Linked DNA regions of Homo sapiens: all the other regions are reported to be linked to region 3. Evidence: microRNA targets listed by miRTarBase, many of them from high-throughput screens and not tested one by one. Region 3 holds a microRNA gene; each other region holds the end of a gene's coding sequence.

Region 1 (4,136 bases), not on the chromosome of region 3:
GCAGTGAGCCAAGATTGTGGCATTGCACTCCAGCCTGGGCAACACAGCAAAAACCTGTCACACATGAAAAAGACAACTGTGAACTGTAAAAAGCACTCCTCCATCTTCACCCTCTCTGTATATATTTATGTTTAAATATCTCCAAGGAAGCAGTTACAAAAACATGGAGAATAATAAATGACAGAGTAAGAATTTGAGAACAAACATTTGATTTGTTTCCATAAATTGAGACAAACCTCAACTGACTACAAATTGAGACAAAAGAATCAATTGAGCCGGGCGGGGTGGCTCACGCCTGTAATCCCAGCACTTTGGGAGGCCGAGGTGGGCGGGTCATGAGGTCAGGAGATTGAGACCATCCTGGCTAACATGGTGAAATTCCGTCTCTACTACAAATACAAAAAATTAGCCAGGCGTGGTGGCGGGCACCTGTAGTCACAGCTACTAGGGAGGCTGAGGCAGGAGAATGGCGTGAACCTGGGAGGTGGAGCTTGCAGTGAGTCGAGATCACGCCACTGCACTCCAGCCTGGGCGACAGAACGAGACTGTCTCAAAAAAAATCAATTGAGACAAAGCCTCAATTGATTAACCTTAAAATAACCTTCTTAAAAGATATGTGTGTGTGTGTGTGTGTATATAAATCATCCATAAGCATATTAGTAAAAGTACAAATCAACAGATATGTTTTAGAGAAGTGTTAAATTTTTTAAACGCAAGTGTAATTTAAATAGAATGAAATACAACAATCCGAAGTGCATAGACGATGAGGTAAGATTTTTTTCATCAACTTTATTGAAGTGTAATTTACATATAATAAAATGCAACCATATGTCTACATTCATGCAAATACCACCTTGTAAGAAATGCCTTTCCTGACTACCTTATCTAAATTAGTCCTGCCCAGAGTTCAGAGACCAGCCTGACCAACATGGAGAAACCCCGTCTCTACTAAATAATACAAAAATTAGTCGGGCATGGTGGAGCATGCCTGTAATCCCAGTTACTCAGGAGGCTGAGTCAAGAGAATCGCTTGAACCTGGGAGGCGGAGGTTGCAGTGAGCCAAGATCGTGCCATTGCACTCCAGCCTGGGCAACAAGAGCAAAACTCCATCTCAAAAAAAAAAAAAAGAAAAAAGAAAAAGAAAGTCCCAGGTGCAGTGGCTCATGATTGTAATCCCAGCACTTTGAGAGGACAAGGTGGGCCATTCTTTATATTCATAAGGTGGGAAGATTGCTTGAAGACAGGAATTCAAGACCAGCCTGGGTAACAAAGCAAGACTCCAACTCTACTGAAATAAAAAATAAAAACTTAGCTGGGTGTCATGGTGCTGCTGGGAGTATAGCAGTGAGGACGACCAGAGGTCACTCTTGTCACCATCTTGGATTTGGCCGACTTCTTTACTGCAAGATGTTTTCTCAGCAAGGTCTTTATGACCTGTATCTTATGCTGACCTCATATCTCATCTTGTGACTTAGAATGACTTATCTGTCTAGGAATGCAGTCCAGTAGGTTTCAGTGTTACTTTACACAGCTCCTATTCAAGAAGAAGTTGCTCTGGTTTACACGCCTCTGACGTAACCATGCAGTGAACAAGTCTATTGGCTCCATTTATTCACCAGCATGTGCTCACTTTGTATCTGTGTCATATTTGGATGATCCCAACAATATTTCAACTTTCTCATTGTTGTTATATCTGTTATGGTGGCCTATGATTATCTTAGGCACCACTACTTGTTTTAGGGCATCACAAACTGTGTCCATATAAGACAGCAAACTTAATTGATAAACATGGTGTGTGTTCTGACTACAAACTTAATTGATAAACACTGTGTGTGTTCTGACTGCTCCACTGACTGGCTCACTGCAACATCCGCCTCCCAGGTTCAAGCGATTCTCCAGCCTTGCCTCCTGAATAGCTGGGATTACAGGCATATGCCACCATGTCTGGCTGATTTTGTATTTTTAGTAGAGATGGGGTTTCAACATGTTGGCCAGGCTGGTCTTGAACTCTTAACCTCAGGTGATCCACCCACCTCAGCCTCCGAAAGTGCTGGCATTACAGGCGTGAGCCACCACGCCCGGCTTGGAATTTCTAATATAAATTGCCCACTGGATCCAAAGGAGAAGGTGCGCACAGACTTTAGTTTTGCTTGCTTTCTTTCCAGCAAGGACTTTCTTAGCCACCTTTGCAGTTATGGGCTAAAGTAGACAGGGAAATAGACAGGGAAGGCGAAGCTTAAAACAAAGTCAGTAGTCAAACATGAAAAATATAGTCACACTTATTTATTATAAAAAAACTATTACTAGCCAGGCGTGGTGGCTCACACCTGTAATCCCAGCACTTTGGGAGGCCGAGGTAGGGGGATCACGAGGTCAAAAGTTTGAGACCACCCTGACCAACACAGTGAAACCCCGTCTCTACTAAAAATACAAAAATTAGCCAAGCATGGTGGTGCATGCCTGTAATCTGAGCTACTCAGGAGGCAGAGGCAGGAGAATCACTTGAACCCAGGAGGCAGAGGTTGCAGTGAGCCAAGATAGCACCACTGCACTCCAGCCTGGGCAACAGAGCAAGACTCTGTCTCAAAACAAAACAAACAAACAAAAAATACACAAAAACAACTATTGCCATCAACATTTTATCAATTAGTAATTTTGGCACAGAGAATTTACATAACTAGCCTAATGTCACGTAGGTAGTAAATGGTTGTCTTTTGTCATTGACCACATTCTCTAATATGAATTTGTATAACTTCAATAAGCTTTGAATCATGATAGAAAACTCATCTACATTCATTATCAATTTCTTTCAGTATTAAATGTCCTAATTTTGGTGGGTGGATCACCAGGTCAGGAGATCGAGACCATCCTGGCTAACACAGTGAAACCCTGTCTCTACTAAAAATACAAAAACAAAAAAATTAGCCAGGCGTGGTGGCAGGTACCTGTAGTCCCAGCTACTAGGGAGGCTGAGGCAGGAGAATGGCATGAACCCAGGAGGCAGAGCTTGCAGTGAGCCGAGATAGCGCCACTGCACTCCAGCCTGGGCGACAGAGCAAGACTCCGTCTCAAAAAAAAAAAAAAAAGTCGTAATTCTGGAAAAAGTGAATATGAAGTAATACACATCCATTGTATTTGACCCACATATGGAATCTGCTGATGATCCATGACAAATGGCATGAGAACAGTTTCCTACATTAATTATGTTAGGTCATGAATTCTCTGATGTCGAGTAAGCTGTGTAAGCTGTTTAAAGGCCTTCCCACATGTCTTACATTCATAGGGTTTCTCGCCAGTGTGAACACTCTGATGTCGGCTGAGTCCTGAGGCATAGAAAAAGGCTTTCCCACATTCCGGACATTGATAAGTTTTCTCACCAGTATGGATTCGTTTATGTTGACTAAGTTGTGAAGGACATCTAAAGGCCTTCCCACATTCCTTACAATCATAAGGTTTCTCACCAGTGTGAGTTCGCTGATGTCGAATTAGTTCTGAGCCGCAAGTAAAAGATTTCCCACATTCTTTACATTCATAAGGTCTGTCACCGGTATGAATTCTCTGATGTAGAGTAAGGTGTGTACGCTGTCTGAAGGACTTCCCACATGTCTTACATTCATAGGGTTTCTCGCCAGTGTGAATACTGTGATGTTTGGTGAGTCCTGAGAAACGGACAAAGGCTTTTCCACATTCATGACATCGATAAGGTTTCTCACCAGTATGGATTCGTTGATGTTGAGTAAGTTTTGAACGACGTCTAAAGGCCTTGCCACATTCCTTACAATCATAGGGTTTCTCACCAGTGTGAATTCGCCGATGTTGGATTATTGCTGAGCGAAAAGCAAAAGATTTTCCACATTCCTTACAATGATAGGGTTTCTCACCAGTGTGAATTCGCTGATGTTCAATTAGTGTTGAGCGAGAAGTAAAAGATTTCCCACATTCTTTACAACTGTAGCGTTTCTCACCAGTGTGAACTGGCCGATGTTGAATTAGTGCTGAGCGAAGAGTAAAAGATTTCCCACATTCCTTGCAATGATAAGGTTTCTCACCAGTGTGAAGTGGCTGATGTTGAATTAGTGTTGAATGAGAAGTAAAAGATTTCCCACATTCCTTACAATCATAGAGCTTCTCACCA
Region 2 (4,165 bases), not on the chromosome of region 3:
TTGAAGTTGGTAGTGAGCATTGGTGCACTTCTGGCTGGCAGTCCCAGCTGCCTTTTCTCTCTATAACTGGAATAGAATGAACCTTCCTCTATCCCTCTCTTTCTTCCCACGGCCTTCAGGTGTTCCCAGAACCTTGCTGTGTCTGTGCCGTGTGGCTGTGAGAAGAGCTCTTGGCAAACACCGGCTTCATCTGATTCCTTCGCTGCCTCTGCCAGACCCCATAAAGAAGTTTCTACTCCATGAGTAGACTCCAAGTGCTGCGGTTGATTCCAGTGAGGGAGAAAGTGATCTGCAGGGAGGTGGACACCGAGCCCTGAGTGCTGTGCTGCTGCTGGTCTCCTGATGGCTGTTGCTGCAGAAGATGTCCTCGTAGACTGTCATTGCTCCTCAGGTGCCTGGGCCGCTGAACAGTCCTTGGGTCATTGTCAGCTGAGAGGCTTATACTAAAGTTATTATTGTTTTTCCCAAGTTCTCTGTTCTGGATTTTCAGTTGCATATTAATGTAACGGGCCATGGGGTATGTACATGTAGGGGCTGAGGTTGGAGGCCTACTAATTTCCCTGTAGGGAAGACTCCCAGCACTTCTGGAACTGTGCTTCTCTTTATTTTTCTACTTCTCAATTTGATGGTTCGATTAAAGCCTTCTAGTATCTCAATGAAAAGGGAGTTTCGTAAGCAAAATAGAGGACAGAAATGCAGTTCATGAACTTGCTGGTTGGTTTTTCCTGCTCCTGGGGTAACACATGCGCTTGTCATACACGCCCCTTCCTTGCCCCTTCAGTATTCTCTCTTTGCGATGGAGGTCTCATAGTGAGTGTCTTCACTCAAGGGTGGTTTCCTGGCTGCACGGCACCTGTTCCAACACCTACTGTGCCTCTCATCAGGTGTCACGATTTTTCTGCCACTTCACCTTAGGGAGCTTCCAGTGATTGATTTTAGGAGGCCCACACCAAACTCCCCAGGAAATGACTGCCTTCCTTGGGACCAAGGACCGTTCCAACAGCATTCACTGCCAGTTCTAATAGGCGAGGAAAATGCCCGAGGCGCTGTCTTCTGTCCCCCACACGTACCAGAAAGTGAAAAATGCAGCGAGTCCTCTGGGTGGTTATGAGCCTCCAGGCGCATGCTGTCCAGTGGACAGAACATCTGGCGGTTGGTTGATTGCTCTCTTTTGTCTTGGTCGCTGCTTCTAGAATCTATGCAGGGGATAGCAGTGAGGTCAGAAGTCTTTCCCGGGAGAGAGATGGCCTGGGTTATCATTGCTGATAGCTTTGGCTGCATGAGTTGGGCTTCCCCTTACCCAGGGCTGCACAGCCAGGTGTGAGGGTCACCGGCAGGTGGGCTGGTGGCTGCAGCCTCAGAGCCCTCCCAGGTTGCTGCTGTTTCCAGTGAATCACATTTCGTCATTTGAAGCCCATGAGGACCATTGTGTGGATCCATGGTGATTCTAGACTTCAGATATATTTAGGAAGGCGCAGATTTCAAATCTGTGTTTGATTTTCTGTAATAAGAGAAATCCAATTTGTAAAACTTGAACAATGATACCGTTTTATTTACTTAGTAGCATCACTGTGTGTCTTAGCAGGCAGGCAGTGTCTGGCCATTATTGCGTTCTACAGCCAGAGGATAGAATTCTATACCCCCAACCCCTTGTGTCACAAATGGGCTCTGTGTGGGTCACCCCAGCTGACCCGTGTATGTGCAGATGCAGTTCCGAAGGGAAGAACAGTCCTCGGGTGATTCAGAGGGGAAAATGCAATCCGGGAGGTGTTTCCTCAGCTGAGGTGACACTGTTAGAAGCTGTGATGGTTGTGTAAATGTGGGCTGTGTGCTGTTCCCGAGGGGAGCTTGGGATTGGGTCCTGCTGAAGCCAGGAGGGTCTTCCCAAGATAGGAGAGGAACCGCAGGTGGTGAGCGGCTGGGGAGGGCCAGGACAGCCGGGGCTGGGTGCTGCAGGGGCTTCAGCCCGGGAGAGGGGGTGGGCGTGTTCTTTGTGGTACCAAAGTGGGACTAGGACAAAAATTGGGCTGTGGCTGGGGCAGGAGCTATAGGGAGTTAAGGAATGATGATACGGAAGTTGGAGCCACCACCGTGGACTGGGCCTTGTCACTGGAGGTCGTAGGCAGTGGCTCATCACCCTGGTAGGGCTGATAGGGGCTTTCAGGGAGGCTGGTTAGCTCCCTGCACTCTGGCTCTTTACTGGCTTACTGTTTAGCTCCTCCCACCTCGAGGCTCTTCTTCCTGCCACCCTTTGGGCTCAGAGGAGGGTGGCTTTTTTCGAGGTGAGCCATGTTGTAGACACATGATACGCTCTGCGTCTGCTCTACTGAGTACTTTCTGCAGGGGCCTGTTAAGGACGAGGCCTCCCCAGCCCTGCCCGGTGCAGGAGGTGGCTCAGTTATTGAACCTTTTGGGAAGCAGCACCTGGGAATGCTGCCTCGTGGGAGTCCCATGCGTGAGTGTGGTGGTGTGACCTTCAGGCTGCACAGAGGCAAGGACCCAGATGTGGCAGCATGGGCGTCATGCTCCTTTGCACAGCCCAGGGCCTGTTTTGGAGGGACCAGGTCACTGCCCCTGGTCTCTCTAGGAGGAGTGGACTGAATGGATCGTTGCAGAGAAGACTCACCCAGACCTGGCCAGGGAATGATGTATCTGGGGAGAGAATGAGCTGGAGGAGGGGGCCTCTCATGGCCCTTCCCTGGCCTGTGGCCCAGCCTGGCTGGCCTGCAGGTGTCTAGGGTCTCAGCTTTTCATTTGCAGAGGACATGTTCAACTTCCTCTCTGTTCAAGCCAGCCTTTGCCAATTTTTTCAGAATCCAAACAATTTGGAGGTTTGGTATCTTGTTTCATAGCTGCCAAATATGAATCTGAAAACAGGGTGGGTAGCTAAGGTCATTCCTCCTGGGTTTTAGTGGCATTGCCTTCCTTCACTAAAGCTCCCTTTTTTTTCTGTTGGCAAGGACAGGTTACAGAATAGGAAGAGTAGCACTTTCCGCCTAAGCACTTTAGGAAATCACCTTTCTAAGCCCTGGGGCGCCCAAGTCCCATGGGACAGGGAAACGTGGTCCTCAGTGAGGCTGCTGCCTGGCTGGCCCGGAGTCCTCCCTAGGAGAGGGGCTCGATGGGCTGGGGGAAGGAGCCTGAAGGTTGCCCCTGGTTGCATCCCAGAAGCATCTGACTGTCACCACTGCCAGTGGCTGTGGAACAGTCCTGGGCCCTGGGCCTTGGCTGCTGTCAACAGATGGGCTGGGCTGGGCTGTGGTGGGGTGGGGGACAACGTTGGTAACTCTGAGAATTCAGCTTTGGAGTCCCGGGTGAGGGGTTTTAGATAAACCCATCAATATCACCCACATTCTGTGACTCTTTGCATCACTCGTGTTATTTATTTATTTATTTATATTCTGCCTTGTTCCAGAAAAGTGTTTAAGGCAACAATGCTTGTTTTTTGGTGTTTTCTTTTGACATTTGAAAATTTAGTACATTGTTAAAATGTACTTGTTAAACAGGTAATTTTAAAGAGAAGGAACAATTGTTTTTAGTAAGTTTTCTTTTTCCTTTTTCAATGAATTGATTCTTCAAATTAAAAGTTCTTGAGAGAAGGAGAGGAAGATACAGCAGACATAGGACTGAGCCAAGGAAGAGTCTGCCTGAGAGAGACGCTTGGCCTGTGCTTTGCTGCCATCCGTGCGGCCTTGGCCACATCCCTATTAACAGAGGCAGCTCCACTTCAGACAGGGACAAGGCTTCCTGCTGTGCCTTTCTGGCAGGGTTTTGTGGGGTCACATGGGAAGCAATGTGTTACGCAAGCAGTCTCCATGTGTGTGTAAACTGCTGTCCTGGTGACTTGTCCCTCTTCTTAGTGGAAATGCATTTGAGATGGTGACAGGGCTGGATGAACGTGTGACCCTGGGAGATCCGGGCTGGACTGTGGACCCCGATGGGCCAGAGTCCTTGTGGCCCACAGCATAGCACTGGGGACAGAGCGCTCTATGCAGGTGAGGCGTATGAGAACAGCATGGTAAATAATTGATGAAGTCACATTTGTTCAACTTAAAGGATTGTTCTTTATTCTGAAGTTATTTTCTTCCTTATTTGGATGATAAAATTTCCTTTTATGTAATGAAGGTAAAAGTAGAGGGCAATATTTTTGCTTTTTGAAATGCTC
Region 3 (4,165 bases):
AATTATATCTTTTGATGAAAAAAATCCATCAAAAACCTTAGAAATCCTAAATACTCTGAAGCAATTGAGATAGGCGTCCAAGATTAGCTTCACAGCACTGACCTCTATGGTGATCTTGAATACGAAAGCCTTCATAAAAGAAAGGAGGCTGTTTCCACAGCTTCCTCATTACCTAAGGTATTGGAATGCAGAACATCAATTATCCCCTAAAATATTCCCCAAAACACTTGTCACAAAAACAAGCATTTTTTTTTCAATCTTCAAAACTCAAGATTTCATAGGAGCAATTTGACTGAATCCCTCAGGTACCTAATGTCTCATTTTCTGAAGCTGATGTCAATCTGCTATATCTTTATTCTGGAGAGCACATGCAATTACAAGGGTTATTGCCACAGTTTAAAGGGAAAAACATTTCCCCTGTACCTCCAAATTATCCCACTTTAATTTCAAAGATTTCCCCATGAAATCATCCATATCTTCACATATTGCCAATAATAATTGCGCTATACTTCTGCAGAATGGTTAAAACCAGTGGCTATGGGTCCAAGTACACTTGATTATCTTTTTATATTTTTCAGGTTCTAGAAATATGCATACATTTATATCATCTAGTTCTTTCTTCACAGGACTTTTGTAAACGACTTCTCCCACAATCAGCTGATGAGGTGGGGTGTCTCTAGTTTTACTGGATATGAAACATCCTAGCATCATGACTGCAACTTTTGATCCTCAAGAAGCATTCCTTTTCCTGCATGATTATAAAATTGGACTTTATGGCCGTGGTCTATCGGAGTTTGTTGTATATTTCTTTGAGACCAAGATTGAAGTAAGAAACAGGTGCAATGACTACTTGGAAAGAATTTAAATTACTTCTGTTGAGGAGGAGGAGGAGGAGGGAAGATTAAATCTAAAATTATTAAGTATTCCTGAAAAAAGTCAAAGCTAGTTACCAGGATATTAAATAGATTCAATACAGCATCCAACCATTTAGGAAAGGTGATGCACTTGGGGCCTGAGGATATGATACTATCACATTTACGTGGTCATAAGGACCTTTGAAATTCAGATTAGGTCTGCTTATCAGCAGAGACTATTTCAGCACTAAATCTAATAAATATTCCAATCAGTGCAAAAGACCTCCTGTGTTCCATAGCTCATGTCACTAACTGCAGCAGCTTCTGTTGGGTACACCTTGGCATGATTCCAGCTGCCTTCCCAAGCCCATTTTAGCAGTTAGGTATCTATAAAAGGAGGTGGAAGATAAAGTGGGGAGGGGTGGGAAGGAGCAAGGAAAGATGAATTATGGGCGGAACATATAATAATAACTCGGCCACTTTATTTCTATTCCTTAAATGGAAAAACAAAATTTGATGCTTTTTGGTCTTCACATTTCTAAAAGCCATTATCAGATTTCATTTTTGAAATAAATTAACAGACAAAAAATATTTTGTTTTGTTCTGTGCCTCTGTTGTCTGAGTGCCCCTATAATAAGACATGCTTATCTGACAAACATCAGAGGAGCCATGCCCCTCTGAGAAACATCTTCACTGTTACTGAGATTTGGGTTTATTATAATGGGGTACTGGGCATTTTGCCCACTAACTATATAGTAAATATTTCTGTGATTAACCTGAGCCCCATACTAAATATACAAAAATTCAGTGGCTCCTTATTATTTGTGGATTCTACGTCCACAAATGTGGATTGCAATTGGAGATGCCTGATGGGCATGCACACGAGGATGTTCTGTTTCTTGTTTCTGCTCATAGAGTAAACAAGTGTCCGGGTGCGGTGGCTCACGCCTGTAATCCCAGCACTTTGGGAGGCCAAGAAGGGCGGATCAAGAGGTCAGGAGATTGAGACCATCCTGGCTAACACGGTGAAACCCCATCTCTACTAAAAATACAAAAAAAAAAAAAAATTAGCTGGGCGTGGTGGTGGACGCCTGTAGTCCCAGCTACTCGGGAGGCTGAGGCAGGAGAATGGCGTGAACCTGGGAGGCAGAGCTTGCTGTGAGCCAAGATGGCGCCACGCCTGGGCTACAGAGCGAGACTCCATCTCAAAAAAAAAAAAAAAAAAAAAAAAAAACGAGAGAGAAAACAAGTGTCCTATTTGCAGTTTGTTTGGTGCCACAGATTTTCTCATTTTTGTGCTTTTAGTTGGTAATTTTGCTGTTTAAAACAGCCTCCCGAGAATAATGTCAGTGTGCTACCTGGTATCCTAAGCACAAAGATGCTGTGCTGTGTCCTGTGCAGAAAATCCACGTGAGACAAGCTTTGTTTGGGTGCGAGTTACAGTGCTATTGGCCCTGAGTTCAATGTAAACCCATCAACGTTATAGGTAAAATAAAGTGTCTTTAAATAGATACATGCCTAAAACAAGGTTAGGTTGGTGCAAAAGTAATTGTGGTTTTTGTCATTAAAAAATTGCAAAAACCACGATCACTTTTGCACCACCCTAACATTTTTCTTCACTTCTCTTGACGCAAATTATAGATTCAATCACCCAGCACTTACAAGCAAGCATTTCTTTATCTTAGGTTGACCTTAAGAACTTCTTTGTATTTACTAACTTCCTTTAGGACTCCTCCTCTTTTGTAGTAAGACGGCAGGATGAAATACAATGAAGAGGGTACCATATTTTAAAGATAAGGCTGAATACCACACACCTGGCATGATGAGAGGCCTATACAGAAAAAAGAGCTTCTGAAGCTTCTCTATGCCACACAAGGGATGAAGGTGGCCTCCAACAACTGTGACCTCCAACCGGTGGAGCTCATGTGTGATATGCCTTTTATGTCCTTTAGCACATTTGTTACCCACAATAACTTTACAAGCCAAGTATTATTATCCACAATTGCTAGAAGAGGAAACCAAAGCTCCCTAAATGCTCAATATCATGCTCATCACTCTTTCAGCTCTGTATGGGATTCCCAAAGTGAACCTCATGTGTATTTATGAACTTGGCACTCTCGGATACCATGCAGCACCCCTCATTTTCTGTGAGCTCTGCTTGCTGAGGTGAAGACTCTGCTGCAAAGGGGCCCCTGGTCCTGTGAAGCTGGTCCCCCTGCTGTGCCTATTCTAAGGAATGGCCATTGCTGATGACATTTGCTGGTCTGTGCCCAGGCATGGTTTCCTGGCGCTGCAGAAGCCACTGGCTGGTAATCTGCCTATGGGTGTCCACAAACCCTCAAGTACAGAAATTTGCCATCCTTCAGTTTGACAGGCATTTTAATGGAATGCTCTTTCAGTGTATCTCCCTAGCATTCAGGTACGCGTTTCAGGGGCCAGGCTGGAGGGTGATCTAAGTGACAGGCATGGTACAATGGTAAATTTTGCCCATACCCTCAACACTGATCCTCTACTTCTAGGCCATACTAAGGTGGCTTTTAAAAATTAATATATGATAATAGTACCTATTTATGGGATACATGTGATATATGGATACATGCATATAATGGGTAATGATCAAAGCAGGGTATTTAGGATATGCACCACCTCAAACATTTATCATTTCTTTGTGTTGGGAACATCCCAAATATTCTTTTCTAGCCCTTTTGAAATACACAATACATTGTTGTTAACTATGGTCACCTGCTGTCCTATTGACCATTAGAACTTATTCCTTCCAGCTAACTGTATGTTTATAGCCATTAGCCAACCCCTCTTTATCCCACATCCCAGCCCTCCACACACACACACACACACACACACACACACACACACACACACACACACACACACACACCCTTCCCAGCCTCAGGTAGCCGTCATTATACTCTCTACCTCCATGAGATCAAATTTTTTAGCTTCCACGTGAGTGAGAACATGCAATACTTGTCTTTCGGTGCCTGGCTTATTTTTAACATAATGTCCCCCATGCTCATCCATGTTGCCGAAAATGGCAGGATTTTATTATTTTTATATCTGTTCTCTTATTAATAGTATAACTTCTTACAACTTAGATTTAAGCAGAGGCCCTTCTACATATAATTGGAATTTTATATGTCCACATTTAAAAAGAGTTACCTTGGGATTGATAACATACTTCTTTTGCTCCTAAGTAAAAATTTTTATTACTATAAAATGTTTCACAAATGTATCAAAAATACTACAATTAAAACTACTGCTCTGATCAACACACTTTCGTGCTCTTTTGTCTG
Region 4 (4,165 bases), not on the chromosome of region 3:
TGCTCTGTTGCCCAGGCCTGATCGTGTACTATTGGCCTCAGGCAATCCCACCTCAGCCCCCGAAAGTGCTGGGATTACAGGCATGAGCCACCATGCCTTGCCAAGAATCTTAACATTTTCTTATCTTGCAATGTCCTAGAAAAATCGTCATCTTAATAATGAATTTTAAAAAGTAATTTTACCTTTCTTTTAAACAGTACTACGACATTTCTGCCAAAAGTAACTACAACTTTGAAAAGCCCTTCCTCTGGCTTGCTAGGAAGCTCATTGGAGACCCTAACTTGGAATTTGTTGCCATGCCTGCTCTCGCCCCACCAGAAGTTGTCATGGACCCAGCTTTGGCAGCACAGTATGAGCACGACTTAGAGGTATTGTGGCCACTTTGCTGTTCAGATTGTTCGGTTTGGCTTGTTTATTCCTGGCAGTTTTGATCTGGAGTGTTAACGTTTTTCCATCTCTTCGTCTAGGTTGCTCAGACAACTGCTCTCCCGGATGAGGATGATGACCTGTGAGAATGAAGCTGGAGCCCAGCGTCAGAAGTCTAGTTTTATAGGCAGCTGTCCTGTGATGTCAGCGGTGCAGCGTGTGTGCCACCTCATTATTATCTAGCTAAGCGGAACATGTGCTTCATCTGTGGGATGCTGAAGGAGATGAGTGGGCTTCGGAGTGAATGTGGCAGTTTAAAAAATAACTTCATTGTTTGGACCTGCATATTTAGCTGTTTTGGAACGCAGTTGATTCCTTGAGTTTCATATATAAGACTGCTGCAGTCACATCACAATATTCAGTGGTGAAATCTTGTTTGTTACTGTCATTCCCATTCCTTTTCGTTTAGAATCAGAATAAAGTTGTATTTCAAATATCTAAGCAAGTGAACTCATCCCTTGTTTATAAATAGCATTTGGAAACCACTAAAGTAGGGAAGTTTTATGCCATGTTAATATTTGAATTGCCTTGCTTTTATCACTTAATTTGAAATCTATTGGGTTAATTTCTCCCTATGTTTATTTTTGTACATTTGAGCCATGTCACACAAACTGATGATGACAGGTCAGCAGTATTCTATTTGGTTAGAAGGGTTACATGGTGTAAATATTAGTGCAGTTAAGCTAAAGCAGTGTTTGCTCCACCTTCATATTGGCTAGGTAGGGTCACCTAGGGAAGCACTTGCTCAAAATCTGTGACCTGTCAGAATAAAAATGTGGTTTGTACATATCAAATAGATATTTTAAGGGTAATATTTTCTTTTATGGCAAAAGTAATCATGTTTTAATGTAGAACCTCAAACAGGATGGAACATCAGTGGATGGCAGGAGGTTGGGAATTCTTGCTGTTAAAAATAATTACAAATTTTGCACTTTTTTGTTTGAATGTTAGATGCTTAGTGTGAAGTTGATACGCAAGGAAAATGGTCCATGTTTACCCACAGTTTTCAGGTACTCCTAGACTTTAAAGATGTCTTGAACATTTAAGTTCTTCAGCAGTTCACACTACACCGTTTTTTTGTTTTTTTTTCCCCCCCGGGAGGGTTTTTTTGTAGGGCAGCACAGCAGAGCAGGACATGGATGAAATACTAGGAATATGCACAGTGGGGCAGTGTGGGGGCTTCTCAGTAATGGAGAACAGTTGGTGAAACTTTTTTTTTTTTTTAACTAAGCATTTAATTTATCTTGCATATTTTCCACATTTAAAAATGAATTAGGTCTATTAGGATAATTAGGAGTTTGATCCCATCAACACTATTCTTGTAGCAGTTAGGAATCTTGAGCTATTTTTTTCTCATACGATTACTATAGTCCAGTTTACCAAAGTTTTCTTTAGATGTCTGATAATCTTGAGATGATTGCTTACCTTAAAAGGTATAGAAAGGATCACTTAAATATATGGAAAAATGAAATAAGGGTGAAGCTGAATAAAGTTCTACTTACTGTATTAACTGGCAACAGTTGAGTTTCTTAAGATCTGAATTGCTGTGTATGTTACGCTGTATTCAGAACCAGTTTCTAACCAGCCTGTGAGATGGGAAGTTTTTTCCCCATAATTGGGATGAAACCTTTCATTCAGGTATTTTGAATTGAAGGTGTATGTGTTGTTTGTAACCTTGTGGAGATTGCAAGTGGTGTTGACATTCTGGATCTTCTATGTAACAGTTGAAATTTGGAAGTGACGTCACTTACCTGTCTAACGTGGTGTGGGAGAGAATTTACAAGTCCTTTATTGAAAGAATAATTGTTGCAAAATATATTGCTTCTACTTTGCCTGGATTTTTTGAATCATCTCTAGTATTTGCTTTAGGAAATGCTGAAGAGTTAGCAGAGATTATTATCTTTTGGGGGGGCGGCGGGGAAGGGGTCAGTTCTCTCCAGATTGTACAAATGGGAAAAGTCTGCTCTCCATTTTTTGAAATCTCGTGTCTAATGGGGGAAGCCTTGAAAGCTTTATATGAAGTTACTGCAAACCAGTAATAGCTTATTAGAGCAAAGTCATTAAGAAAAAGCATAGTTAGTGCATAGGTCTTGTGTGGATATAATGTGAAACTGGTAAATTAGTAGTTTCAATTTGTGTGAGAGCCAGTTTTTTTAAAAAACCACATAGAATGGGATTTTTTAAAAAATTGTATCAATCATAAAATGTCTAGAAAAGATGAGACTCCAAAATAGCCTCCAAAGAGGACTGGTTTCCTGGCTAACTGTTCACCTGAAGGAACTCAAGTACAGAGAATTTCTGGTTTCTTTTGCAAAAACAGATCAGAAACACAAAAAATTACCTGCTGAGCAAATGGGATGAGGGTTGGATTCAGCTTTTCTTGCCAGCAAACTGACGGACATCGTGTATGATGTTTTCTGCCACTCGGGCTGTACAGGGCTATCCTGCCCAGCAAGATTACGTGAGACTAAGCTTTCCCTGTATGAGGCAGACCCTGTACTAGGACAGCACCTATCCTAACTCCTTGCAGCACCTTTTACCCTTGAAGCCGAGGGCATGGTGGGGAGAAACGGCACCTAACCATGGAAACCTTATCTTTAGTTAAGGGGTCAGAGTCCTATTCAAAAAACATCTGATGCATCTCGCCTGCTCCACATTTCCTACAAGGTCTTGCAGGCTCTGGTCACACGTGCATCTTGAGATCTGTGTGCATGCTGCTTTCCAGAACTCCCCCTTCCCTCTCCTGAAGTCGGTCCTACCAGTTAATGCTTTAGTTCCTTTAGAGTTCACTCTGCTTTTTACCTTGAGTTGGATGTCCGACTACAGACATTACAAGATTGCCTTCAGCCCTAGTCAGCATGGCAAATTTGCGATAGCGACTTTCCCTTCCTAGACTAATTGCCACGAGGGCGAGGGCCATGTCGCTGCTCTCTCATGTCCCTAGTGTTTATTAAATGTTCTATGGGAACCTCGAGGAACAGAGAACTTGGGGGTTAGAGATAGGGTGGGATTGATGGAGGTGGGTGGAGAGGAGCCGGGAGAACTTTATACACCATTAGGTCTGACTATTCTGAAGTCATGCTGGTATTTTCTTCCTGAGGTTTGTAGCCTACACTATCTTTTTAATTTTATTTATTTATTTATTTAATTTATTTATTTATTTTTTAGAGTCTCGCTCTGTCTCCCAGGCTGGAGTGCAGTGGCGCCGTCTCGGCTCACTGCAACCTCTGCCTCCCGGGTTCAAGCGGTTCTCATGCCTCAGCCTCCTGGGTAGCTGGGACAGGCATGCGCATACACTGTCTTTTATCCATTTATTCTGGCTTGTTTCTTTGGTGCACAGGAGTAGAGAGAGCCAGTGTGGACAGTCGGGAAGCTTGCGGGATGGACCTCAGTTAAAATGGTGCCATCAGCAGGTGTTGGGGCTGTGATGCTTGAAGTTTAGTTACAGGCGTTGGAAGAGGCACCTTGGATTTAGTTGGGTTTCAGTTCCCCTCCTTGAAGAAGCAAAACAGAAACCATTCCGTATACCTCAGTCTTCGGTAATGTGGACAGTTGAGTCCTTCTGTCAAGTCAGCTGTGCTCAGAGATACACCGTGCGATGCTGCAGTGGCTTTGCTCATGAAGCCTTCGCCTGGGGAGACAGGCAGTCAGGTTCCTGGGATGAGGCTGAGCGCCACAGTGAGTGTGAGGACGGACAGCTGAGGCTTTGGGAGCATCGCAGGGGCCTGGTCTGAGGCCT

Evidence for each region. The annotated mature microRNA hsa-miR-548t-5p reads CAAAAGUGAUCGUGGUUUUUG and lies in region 3 at 2,430-2,450, opposite strand. An mRNA with a match to its seed (bases 2 to 7 or 8) in the 3' UTR can be bound and repressed. Matches are read on the target gene's strand: a 7mer-m8 pairs with bases 2 to 8, a 7mer-A1 pairs with bases 2 to 7 and ends in A, and an 8mer does both.
Region 1: miRTarBase lists ZNF850 as a target of hsa-miR-548t-5p. Seed matches in the 3' UTR shown: 7mer-m8 at 3,102-3,108 and 7mer-A1 at 661-667.
Region 2: miRTarBase lists ASB1 as a target of hsa-miR-548t-5p. The part of its 3' UTR that is shown has no 7-base or 8-base seed match.
Region 4: the mRNA of RAN is a reported target of hsa-miR-548t-5p. Seed matches in the 3' UTR shown: 7mer-m8 at 1,356-1,362.

What each region holds. Positions count from the first base shown.
Region 1 is chr19:36,744,565-36,748,700 of GRCh38, forward strand. ZNF850 (zinc finger protein 850) reads right to left here. Exons shown (of 5, transcript NM_001193552.2): 5 at 1-4,136. The coding sequence ends at 3,203. Among named protein-coding and RNA genes, the nearest start is that of ZNF850, 26 kb to the right of the region's middle.
Region 2 is chr2:238,446,265-238,450,429 of GRCh38, forward strand. It overlaps ASB1 (ankyrin repeat and SOCS box containing 1), which reads left to right. Exons shown (of 5, transcript NM_001040445.3): 5 at 120-4,165. The coding sequence ends at 247. Among named protein-coding and RNA genes, the nearest start is that of ASB1, 21 kb to the left of the region's middle. RefSeq lists an enhancer at 4,018-4,165.
Region 3 is chr4:173,266,454-173,270,618 of GRCh38, reverse strand. MIR548T (microRNA 548t) reads right to left here and starts at 2,459; the gene lies at 2,386-2,459. The region is part of intron 2 of GALNT7 (polypeptide N-acetylgalactosaminyltransferase 7); the gene reads right to left. It overlaps LOC124900812 (a long non-coding RNA gene), which reads left to right. Exons shown (of 3, transcript XR_007058367.1): 2 at 1-4,165.
Region 4 is chr12:130,875,415-130,879,579 of GRCh38, forward strand. RAN (RAN, member RAS oncogene family) reads left to right here. Exons shown (of 7, transcript NM_006325.5): 6 at 198-368; 7 at 468-2,264. The coding sequence ends at 512. Among named protein-coding and RNA genes, the nearest start is that of RAN, 5.4 kb to the left of the region's middle. RefSeq lists a silencer at 2,990-3,284 and enhancers at 3,797-4,016, 4,037-4,165.